2 separate regions of the Homo sapiens genome follow, and region 1 is linked to region 2. The links come from fine-mapping of genetic effects on plasma protein levels. A gene starts in region 2. The other region holds a variant in brackets. All regions are shown on one strand. Distances are from middle to middle.

Evidence for each region. PIP is the posterior inclusion probability: the model's chance that the variant is causal. The UK Biobank Pharma Proteomics Project read protein levels with antibody pairs (Olink). The fine-mapping took linkage between variants from a reference panel, not from the people measured, so its PIPs are less certain.
Region 1: its variant is fine-mapped to the plasma level of the PALM protein (UK Biobank, PIP above 0.99).

What each region holds. Positions count from the first base shown.
Region 1 is chr19:719,771-725,130 of GRCh38, forward strand. All of the region lies in intron 1 of PALM (paralemmin), which reads left to right. Among named protein-coding and RNA genes, the nearest start is that of PALM, 14 kb to the left of the region's middle. The variant G/A (reference allele first, on the strand shown) is at 2,395.
Region 2 is chr19:705,841-711,200 of GRCh38, forward strand. PALM (paralemmin) reads left to right here and starts at 3,095. Exons shown (of 9, transcript NM_002579.3): 1 at 3,095-3,311. The coding sequence starts at 3,307. RefSeq lists an enhancer at 2,092-2,652 and a silencer at 2,105-2,341.

The DNA.
Region 1 (5,360 bases), 14 kb after region 2:
CGCCCGCAGGAGGATGAACGCCGGGAGAAGGCCGCCCTGCCCGGCCTCAGTTTCCCCGTCGGTGAAATGGGGCTGACCCGGCCGCAGGAGGGAGCGAGCGCTGGGGGAGGCGTTCTCGGTTTGTGGCCGTTTTGATCCGTGCGTCGTGGTCATATTTCGCTTAATTTTTCCAATCTGTGACGTGGAGCGTTCTGTCGGCCTGACCTTGGCTACCCGGCGTCGGGGGCGGGTCCACACCCCTCCCGGATGGAAGCCCCTTCCTGGGCGGGCGCCCCCCGGACGCCCAGACGGGGACCCCCCTCCCCTCCCCCAGCCGCAGCGCGGGGGAGAAATTCCCGACCCCTCCCGCCCGTCTAGGCCGCCCCAGGCCCGAAGCCTCGGCCCCCCCCAATCCCCCCAAGCACAGGCCGGGGGCGGGAGATGCTGCGCCGGCCCCACCCCCGCGCGCCGGGCCTCGGCGTTGCCATGGGGACGGCGCGGTTGCCACGGCGACCGCCTCCCGCGGGCCCCTCCATCCATCACCGGGGCGGCGGCGCCCGGGTCTGGGGAGGGGCGAGGGGGGCGCATCCTGCGTGTCCTGGGGAAAGGCGAGGGGGCGTCCAGGCCCGGGGAGGGGCGAGGGGGGCGCCGGGTCTGGGGAGGGGCGAGGGGGGCGCCGGGTCTGGGGAGGGGCAAGGGGGGCGCATCCTGCGTGTCCTGGGGAAAGGCGAGGGGGCGCCCGGGCCTGGGGAGAGGTGAGGGGGGCGCCGGGTCTGGGGAGGGGCGAGAGGGGCGCCCGGGCCTGGGGAGAGTGAAGGGGGCGCCGGGTCTGGGGAGGGGCGAGGGGGGCGCCGGGTCTGGGGAGGGGCGAGGGGGGCGCCCGTGACTGCGGGGGCCAGGGGGGCGCGTCCTGGGGAGGGGCCTGCGCCCTGGGGCTGCTTCCCGCGCGTTCCCTGCCCGCCCGCCTGACATTCCCCCGCCCTGGCCGGCCGGGCAGGGACAGGCTGCCCCAGACACTACCGCCTTGTCTCCAGCCTGGGAGGCGGCCACACAGCCACACTCTGTCCCCGGGTCCGGTCTGAGCGGCCACCTGCCTGCCGGGTGGGGACCTGGGCAGTCGGCGACCAGCCTGATCCTGGGGCCCAGGAGTTCCGCCGTTTTGTGGACCTCCCGCCCCAGCTCTGCTCCCTCCGGGGTGGCCCCGAGCCCACTTAGAGCTGGAAACCAGGACTGTGGGGTGGCCCGGGGCTGGGCGGTTGTTGTTCCAATCTGGCTGTGCCCAGGGCCACGCTGTGCCCTCCCTGGACGTGGCTTCCAGCCATGGGAAGAAGGTGCCGGGCAGGGGGAACCGTGTGTGAGAGGCCCTGGGGTAGGAGGCTTGGTGCATAGCCAGGGGGCCCTGCAGGAGTAGACCAACGGGGGAAGTGAAGGGGCCGACCTGAGGGTTCCTCTAAGGGCTGATGGGAGCCAGGGAGCCTCTAGAGCTGGAGAGGGACAGGGTCTGATTAATTATTATTATTATTATTGTTATTTTGAGATAGGGTTTCACTCTGTCCCCCAGGCTAGAGTGCGGTGGCACGATCTCGGCTCACTGCAACCTCCACCTCCCGGGTTCAAGTGATCCTCCTGCCTCAGCCTCCCGAGTAGCTGGGATTACAGGCGCCTGGCACCACCCCCAGCTAATTTTTGTATTTTTAGTAGAGACTGGGTTTTGCCTTGTTGGCCAGGATGGTCTCAAACTCCTAACCTCAAGTGACCTGCCCACCTTGGCCTCCCGAAGTGCTAGGATTACAGGCATGAGCCACCGTGCCTGGCCTTCTTTTTTTAATTTTAAAAAAATTTTTTGTTTGTTTGTTTTGTTTTTTGAGACAGAGTTTCTCTCTTGTTGCCCAGGCTGGAGTGCAATGGTATGATCTCGGCTCACCGTGACTTCTGCCTCCCAGGTTCAAGTGATTCTCCTGCCTCAGCCTCCTGAGTAGCTGGGATTACAGGCATGTGCCACCATGCCCGGCTAATTTTTGTATTTTTAGTAGAGATGGGGTTTCTCCATGTTAGTCAGGCTGGTCTCAAACTCCTGACCTCAGGTGATCCACCCGCCTTGGCCTCCCAAAGTGCTGGGATTCCAGGCGTGAGCCACTGCACCTGGCCCATTTTTAAAAATTTTCATTTTTTTAATATATATTTTTTGAGACGGAGTCTCGCTCTGTCGCCCAGGCTGGAGTGCAGTGGCGCAATCTCGGCTCACTGCAAGCTCCGCCTTCCGGGTTCACGCCATTCTCCTGCCTCAGCCTCCCGAGTAGCTGGGACTACAGGCACCCGCCACCACGCCGGGCTAATTTTTTGTGTTTTTAGTAGAGACGGGGTTTCACCGTGTTAGCCAGGATGGTCTCGATCTCCTGACCTCGTGATCCGCCC[G/A]CCTCGGCCTCCCAAAGTGCTGGGATTACAGGCGTGAGCCAGCGCACCCGGCCTTAAATTTTTATTTTTGAGACAAAGTCTTGCTCTGTCACCTAGGCTGGAGACAGTGGCACAATCACGGCTCGACCCAGCCTCAACCTCCTGGATTCAAGTGATCCTCCCACCTCAGCCTCCCAAGTAGCTGGGACCACAGGGACATACCACCACACCTGGCTTTTTATTTATTTAGTTAGTTAGTTATTTTTGTAGAGACAGGCTCTTGCTATGTTGCCCAGGCTGGTCTCGAACTCCTGGGCTCAAGCGATCCACTGGCCTTCACCTCCCAAAATGCTGGAATTACAGGCTTGAGCCACCACACCTGGCCTAGGGTCTGATTCTCTTTTTGAGAAGCTGCCTCTGGCTGGCGGGTGGAGAGGGAGCTGTGAGGGGGCAGGGAGTTGGCAGGGAACACTAGAGGCCTGGGCTAGGGTGGGGAACTTGGGGTAGGCAGGAAGCGAGGGCCCGGGCCTCAAGGGAACGCACAGTGGATGGTTCACTGCCTGCATCACCCGTTGCTGGGGCTGACCGAGAACTCCAGCTGAGCTGGCTATTCAGGAAGGGCCCCCAAGCCAGAAAGCTGGATCAAGCCTTTCCTGAACCCCACCCGGTGAAGGCAGCTGAACCCAGCCTCCCTGAGGAGGGAGAAGGGAAAGCCACAGAGGGCGCAGCTGGTGTTCCCGGGCCCCTGGGAGGCACCGGGAAGGGTAGGTGTCACCTGCCAGGAAGGGAGGAGCCGGTGGGGTCACCTCTGGGGCATGGGAGCTGGACAACTTCACAGGCCTCAGCAGGGCCAGGAAACCAAACCCGAGTGGGGTGGGCAGGCGGGGCGCCTCGGGCTCCAGGGAGGTCTTGACCCGGAGCAGCCTCCCAGGCGGGGCTGGGGGTGAGCCAGTGCACTGTGCAGTTTCATTTTCTCTGCTGAACTGGGGGAGGGGATGGGGGCACAAGGGGGACGTCATAGGAGGCCTTAGAGCTGCAGGCATCTGTGCCTCCGTGTTTGCGTGGATGGGGAAACTGAGGCCCAGAGAGGCACGAGGGCTCTTTGGAGGCAGGGCTGGCTCTGGGCCCTGACACCAGGCTGAGAGGGCTGGGGGTGGCAGCAGACACGAAGGGCAGGCTGTAATTTCAGTCTCTGGGAAGATAAGATGTTGGGGGTCGGGGGAACCTGTCTCCCACCCCTCACCCCTGGTTCCCGCCAGGCCCTGCCCGTCAGCCTGGGCCTCCCCCTGTTGATGCCGCCCAGAGCTTGGGACACCCACCGCCAACCCCTACCGTCCTCTCCCTGCCTCGCTGCAACAGCCTTGGAAGCCTGAGGGTCGCTGGGAAGGTCAAGGCCAAGCTCAGCCCCAGTCTAGGGCTCGGTGCTCCTTGCGTTTTTCTTTTTGTTGTTTTGTTTTGTTTTGTTTTTGACGGAGTCTCGCTTTGTTGCCCTGGCTGGAGTGCAGCGCGTGATCTCTGCTCACTGCAACCTCCGCCTCCTGGGTTCAATCAATTCTCCTGCCTCAGCTCCTCAAGTAGCTGGTTTTACAGGTGCCTGCCATCACGCTCGGCTAATTTTTGTATTTTTTGGTAGAGACGGGGTTTTACCGTCTCTGTTGGCCAGGCTGGTCTCGAACTTCCGACCTCAGGTAATCCGCTCGCATCGGCCTCCCAGAGCGCTGGGATTACAGGCGTGAGCCACCGCGCCCGGCCTGCTTTTTGCATTTTACTAAGCACCTACTACGTGCAGCTTTCTGAGGGCCCACAGACCAGGGAGGGGAGGGGAGGGTTTGGGTGGCAAAGCTCTTCTTCTAGCAGGTGGGAGGGGAAGCGAGAAAGCAGTGGGGTGGGGGTGCCCTGAACTCCGTGTGAACCACGGGGCTGCAGACAGATGAGGAGAGGGGCTCTGCACCAGCTTCTGGAGCTGCAGGGCGAGGTTGCTGTGGGGAGGTCAGAGAACCACAGAATTCCTCGGTTCTTTCCTGGGCGAGTGAGCGTGTGGTGGGTGCCTGGTGGGGGTGGCGAGGGCTTCGGTTTCTGGACCTCCTTCCCACACCACAAAGGGCCCTGTATCTTTGAAGCCTGAAGCCCGGTCCCTTCAGGCGTATCCGGCAACAGTGGTATTCATTCATTCATTTATTGTTTGTTTGTTTGTTTGAGGTGGAGTCTTGCTCTGTTGCCCAGGCTGGAGTGCAGTGGCGCGATCTCGGCTCATGCAACCTCTGCCTCCTGGGTTCAAGCCATTCTCCTGTCTCGGCCTCCAAGTAGCTGGGATTACAGGTGCCGACCACCACGCCTGGCTAATTTTTGTATTTTTAGTAGAGACGGGGGTTTCACCATGTTGGGCAGGCTGGTCTAGAACTCCTGACCTCAGGTGATCCTCCCACCTCAGCCTCCCAAAGTGCTGGGATTACAAGCGTGAGCCACTGCGCCCGGCCATTCATTCATTTTTGAGACAGAGCCTCATGCTGCTGCCCAGGCTGGAGTAGGGTGGTGGGGTCATGGCTCACTGCCCCCTGGACCTCCCAGGCTCAAGCAGTCCTCCCACCTTAGCCTCCCGAGTAGCTGGGACTACAGGCGCACACCACCACACCTTGATAATATTTTTTATTTTTATTTTTGGTAGAGATGGGGTCTTACTAGATTGCCTAGGCTGGTCTCGAACTCCTGGGCTGGAGTAATCCTCCCACCTCGGCCTCCCAAAGTGCTAAAATTACAGGCGTGAGCAGCTGTGGTTTTGCTTTTGTTTTGTTTTGCGACAGGGTCTCACTCTGTTGCCCACGCTGGAGGGCAGTGGCGCGATCTCGGCTCACTGCAGCCTCGACCTCCCGGGTTCAAGTGATTCTCCCACCTCAGCCTTCTGAGTAGTTGGGAGCAATTCTCGTGCCTCAGCCTCCACGCCCAGCTAATTTTTGTATTTCTTGGTGGAGACAAGGTTTTGCCATGTT
Region 2 (5,360 bases):
ACAGCGAGACTCCGTCTCAAAAAAAAAAAAAAATTTGTAGAGATGGGGTCTTTCTGTGTTGCCCAGACTGGTCTCAAACTCCTGGGCTCAAGTGATCCTCCCTTCTCAGCCTCCCAAAGTGCTGGGATTACAGGTGTGAGCCACTGTGTCTGGCCCTGAATCATTTATTTTATTTTGAGCCAGGTTCTGGCTCTGTTGCCCAGGCTGGAGTGCAGTGGCATGATCACGGCTCACTGTAGCCTCAACCTCCCAGGCTCATGCGATCCTCCCACCTTAGCCTCCCAAGTAACTGGGACCACAGGCACACACCACCGTGCCCAGCTAATTTTTATTTTTTATTTTTTATTTTTTTTGAGATGGAGTTTCGCTCTTGTTGCCCAGGCTGGAGTGCAATTGTGCGATCTCGGCCCACTGCAACCTCCGCCTTCCAGGTTCAAGTGATTCTCCTGCCTCAGCCTCTGGAGTAGCTGGGATTACAGGCATGCACCACCACGCCCGCCTAATTTTGTATTTTTAGTAGAGACGGGGTTTCTCCATGTTGCTCAGGCTGATCTCGAACTCCAGAGCTCAGGTGATCTGCCCACCTCAGCCTCCCAAAGTGCTGGGATTACAGGCGTGAGTCACTGTGCCCGGCCCAATTTTTAATTTTTTGTAGAAATGGAAGTCTCACTAGGTAGCCCAGGGTCTTCACCTCCTGGATTCAAGTGATCCTCCTGCTTCAGTCTCCTGAAGTGTTGGGATTACATGTAACAGTCACTTCATTCACCCTGAATCATTTATGTAGGGGACAAAAATCACCGTCTCTCCAAGGACAGAACTTCTTTTTTGTTTTGTTTTGTTTTGTTTTGTTGAGATGGAGTCTTGTTCTGTCACCCAGGCTGGAGTGCAGTGGCGCGATCTCTGCTCACTGCAACTTCTGCCTCCCGGGTTCCAGCCATTCTCCTGCCTCAGCCTCCCCAGTAGCTGGGATTACAGGCGCGCACCACCATGCCCAGCTAAGTTTTGTATTTTTAGTAGAGAAGGAGTTTCACTGGCCGAGCGTGGTGGCTCACACCTGTAATCCCAGCTACTAGGGAGGCTGAGGCAGGAGAATTGCTTGAACCTGGTAGACGGAGGTTGCAGTGAGCCGAGATCGCGCCATTGCACTCCAGCCTGGGCAACAAGAGCGAAACTCCGTCCACCCCAGCCAAAAAAAGAAGTGGTTTTGCCATGTTGGCCAGGCTGGTCTCTAACTTTTGACCTCATGATCCACCAGCCTCAGCCTCCCAAAGTGCTGGGATTACAGGCGTGAGCCACCGCGCCCGGCCTGGTCTCAAACTTTTGACCTCGTGATCCACCAGCCTCAGCCTCCCAAAGTGCTGGGATTATAGGCGTGAGCCACGGCGCCTGGCCGCAAAAATGGAACTTCTGCATCACAGGTGACTAACGGTGCCAGGCACACAGTAGGTGTTCAATAAATCACTTTGGACTAAAAGAACACAGAGGCCAAGGGGAAGTGAAGAAACGACTCACAGGTCAGTTTTATTGGGTGCCTAGTGCAGGGGTCAGTACACTACGGCCCTCGGATCAGCTCTGGCCCTCTGCCTGTTTTTGTAAATAAAGTTTTATTGGGTGCCTAGTGCAGGGGTCAGTACACTACGGCCCTGGGATAAGCTCTGGCCCACTGCCTGTTTTTGTAAATAAAGTTTTATGGGCACAGAGCCATGCCCATGGTTTTACATATTGTCTCTGGCTACTTTCACTCTGCGATGGCAGAGCAGAGTCATTGCCGCAGAGACTGTGGCCTGCAATGCTGAAAATATTTACTCTCTGGCCCTTTACAGAAAAAGTTTGCCAAACCCTGAGCTAGTGTGTGCTGGGCCCTGTGCCAAGCCCTTTGTGTGTGCTCACTCAGTTAACCCTCCCACAGCCTTAAGGGTGGGGGCAGGGGGGTGGGGGGGAATAAGGCTCCGAGAGGTTGAGAAACAGACCCAGGGTCACACAGCTTGGAGATGGGTGAGCTGGGAATCAGACAGACCCGGGACCCCTGATATTCTTTAGGATCTTAGCTTTGTTAACCTTTGCTAATTTATCTTATTGTCTTAAATGCTAAAATGAATACACATTCATTGTAAAAAGGGAGGAATAAAGAAAAGGTGTTGACGGCCTTCTTCAGCCTGGGGTACATCCTGCCGTATCTTTCTCCACAGCTCATCCGGGGCTACTTTCCTTTAAATCTACAGCCATTCAGCAAACATCGGCAGAGGAGAACCGTTTTATAAGAAAACTAAGAAGTTTGGAAGAATCTTTCCTTCCTGCCCACCCTGGACCCCCATGAGTAGGTGTGCTGGGGCTGGTCTGCAGTGTTCTCACGGGAAACCAGGAAGCTGGGCCCAAGGCCTACATGTTGGGGAAGACAGGTCCTGCCTGTCTCCTGCTGTGGCTCCCCAGTGCTCTGAGGACAAAGCCTGAGCTCTCCCTGATTCTCCACCGTCCCTCTCACTCACTCTGGTCGTCTGGTCGCTGGGCCTTTAGTGAGTGTGCCATGGGGGCCCTGGGGCCGATTAAATTCCAGCCCCGGGGACCAGGCTCAGCTCCCAGCCAGGGCACAGACAGATCAGCACCTGCGGTTGTCTCCACCCCAACCCCCGGCCTTTGCAGGCACAGCGCCCTCCACCAGATACTCCGGCAAAGGAGGCCTGGGGACCCTGCGAGCGGGGCCGGGGGTGCAGGGAGCTGTCAGCTCCTCGCAGCGGCCTCCCCAGGACCCCCCTATCCCCTCGCTCGCCCTGAAATGTGTGTCCCTCTCGGCGTCTGGGCTCTCGAGAAAGGCCTTTGCTTGTCTGACTTCGCGAGGGTCCCGGCTCTGGCCCAGGAGCTGGGGAGGGGCGGGACTTGGTGACAGCCGGGTCCCAGCACCGCGCCCAGACCTAGGCCCTTCTCAGGGGTGCCCCGGGGCGGGGCGCGCGGGGCGGGGGGCGGCGGCGGCGCAGCCGGCAGGAGGCGCAGCGCCCGCTCGCAGCGCGGGGAGGTGGGAGGGGAGCGGGGCGGGGAGCGGGGCGGGCGGGAGGGAGAGGGGAGCGCGCCGGAGACGCGCGCGCCCAGCCCACCCCCCGCGCCCGCCGCCGCCCGGACAATAAACAGCAGCTTTGCGCGGGGCGATGCCCGAGCCGGTGCCGCCGCCCCCGCGCCGCGCAGCCCCGGCCGCCAGGCCTTAGCCCGCCCCGGCCCCCGCCAGGCCGCGTCCCCCTCCCCTCCCCTCCCCCGCGCGCCACCCGCGCCCGCCCCCGCCCGGCACCGCGGACCCACCCGGACCTCGGCGGGGAGATGGAGTGAGTAGGCGCGCTCGGGCCGCGGGGCTGGGGGCCCGGAGCTCCGGGAGCCGGGGAGGGGGGAGGCCCCCTCTCTCGCGCCCCATTGGGGGCGTCGCTGCCCCCGCGAGGAGCAGGAGGCGGCGCGGGGCTGCTGGGGCCGCAGCGCAGCCGGGAAGAGACTCGGGCTGGGCCGCGCCTGCCGGGAGGCCTCCCCGCTCCCGGACCCCGGCTGCCCACCCACCGGCGCGTGGGGACCCGGGCAGCGGCGGCTCGGGCCAGTCCAGGACGCGGGGAGGGGGAGGCTCGCGTCTCCGCCCGCGCCCCGCCCGCGTCTCCAGGGCGAGCCTCGGCTCTCGGCCACCTGTGGGTGGCCCCGGGGAGATGGAGCGACCCCTCCCCAGATTGCACCGGTCCGGCCTCGCGCTCACGCACCCTTCCCCCGCCCCAGTCTGAGCGCACGGCTCCTGGCGCCCTGGACGCGCGCGCGGGCCGGTGCCCCCCACCCCCGCCCTTCCCAAGGGCCTCCAGGGGTGTCCTGAGCCCCCCGCCACTGCGCAGGTCCCGAGTTACCGCTGGAGGGAGAGGGGCTGCCCTCGGCTTCCCGGGTCTCTGGGGTGTGTGAGAAGGGAGAGGAACCGGCGTTTTCCAGCGGGGCGCCTGGGTGGGATACCCTCTCGGGGAAGTGTCTCGGAGCTGGGGCTCCACTGGTGTAGCTACAGGAGTGGGCTGGCCCTGGGCTGGGATCCCTGGACCCCCGCATGGCTGCGCCTGTGTGTGTGGGGGGGGGGTGGCCAGTGGAGGCACCGAGCGAGGGCGCGTGGTCATTTCGGACACCGGTCCCCTCCTCCCGGTGCTCGGGTGCCCCTCTGCCCCTCACTCCCACAGGTGGGCACTGCACGGGCAGGGGTCAGGAGGCTCCTCCTGGGGTCACCCACCTGCCCACTTCAGGACAGGGGAGCCAGCTGCCCTGCTGAGGCCCGGGTCCCCACCCCAGCCCGAGGACCGAAGACCGGATCTGGAGGCCGCCTGTGGCCCCCTGCCCTTCCCACTGGGCGTGTTTTCTAAGCCGCCAACTTTCCCCGGGGATTCACCCGTGACCCGCCACGCCCGCGGCTGGGTGGGGGCCGCTGCCTCCCTCCCTCCCTGGGAAAGCGAGACACCCAGTGTCCTCTGCTTTTGAAAACCCAGACAAAGGCCTGACCCCTCTCCCCGTCACCCCGCCCCGGGAGCTCAGCCAGGGGCTCAGGGGAGCCAGGGCCCAGACTTGCCTGCTCCACACCCCCACCCCCCAGCCTTGTTTATCTGCCCTGCTCGCCAGGCCCCGGAGGAGCCTCTGGGCCTCTGACAGCCAGGCCTGGGCAGGGTGTGGCTGTGGGGAGGGGGCTGCCTAGGAGGACGACGGAGATCTCCCTCCCAGAGGAGGGGTGTCAGCGAACACTCCGGGTCGGGCCCATTGTTTCCTTCCTGCCACCCCTTCCTTTCCCACGGGGGATACTGAGGCCCAGAGAGGAGCTGCTGCCCCCCCCCCACCCCCCCTCCATCACACAGCACCTGGGGCCGGGGGGCCTCGGTGCCTCCTGCTCTGCTCCACGGTTTCTCCGTCCTGGGTCAGAGGGTGGCCCACAGGTCCCCCATTGGGTCATCATTGCTTTTGGGGATGCAGACATGGGACAGGCACCCAGTGTTAACCGGCTGCTGTGAGCCGCCATTCGAGGACGACTCTCTCCCCGGTTCCCGGGCTGACAATGGGTGGGGACAGGCCCATCTGGTGCCGCCCGGCCTTGGACACCTGCCCCCTCGTTCTTCTCCCCGGCGGGCTTCAGGCACGAAGGCCCCGTCCGCTAGAACGTGATCGCTTGCCTCCTCCCGTTTCCACAGATTTTCCAGTCGAAGACACGGGAGCTGGCTGTGGTTTGTGGTGGTGCCCGTCTCGCTGGAAAGTTTCACAAATGAATTTAAGAATTTAAAGAATTTTAAATGTCATTCAAGAACAGGTTATTTTTTGTTAATGTGAGGATTTAAGGAGAACTAGCGGGTTGCTAACCACAGGGCCGATGCTGCCAAGGT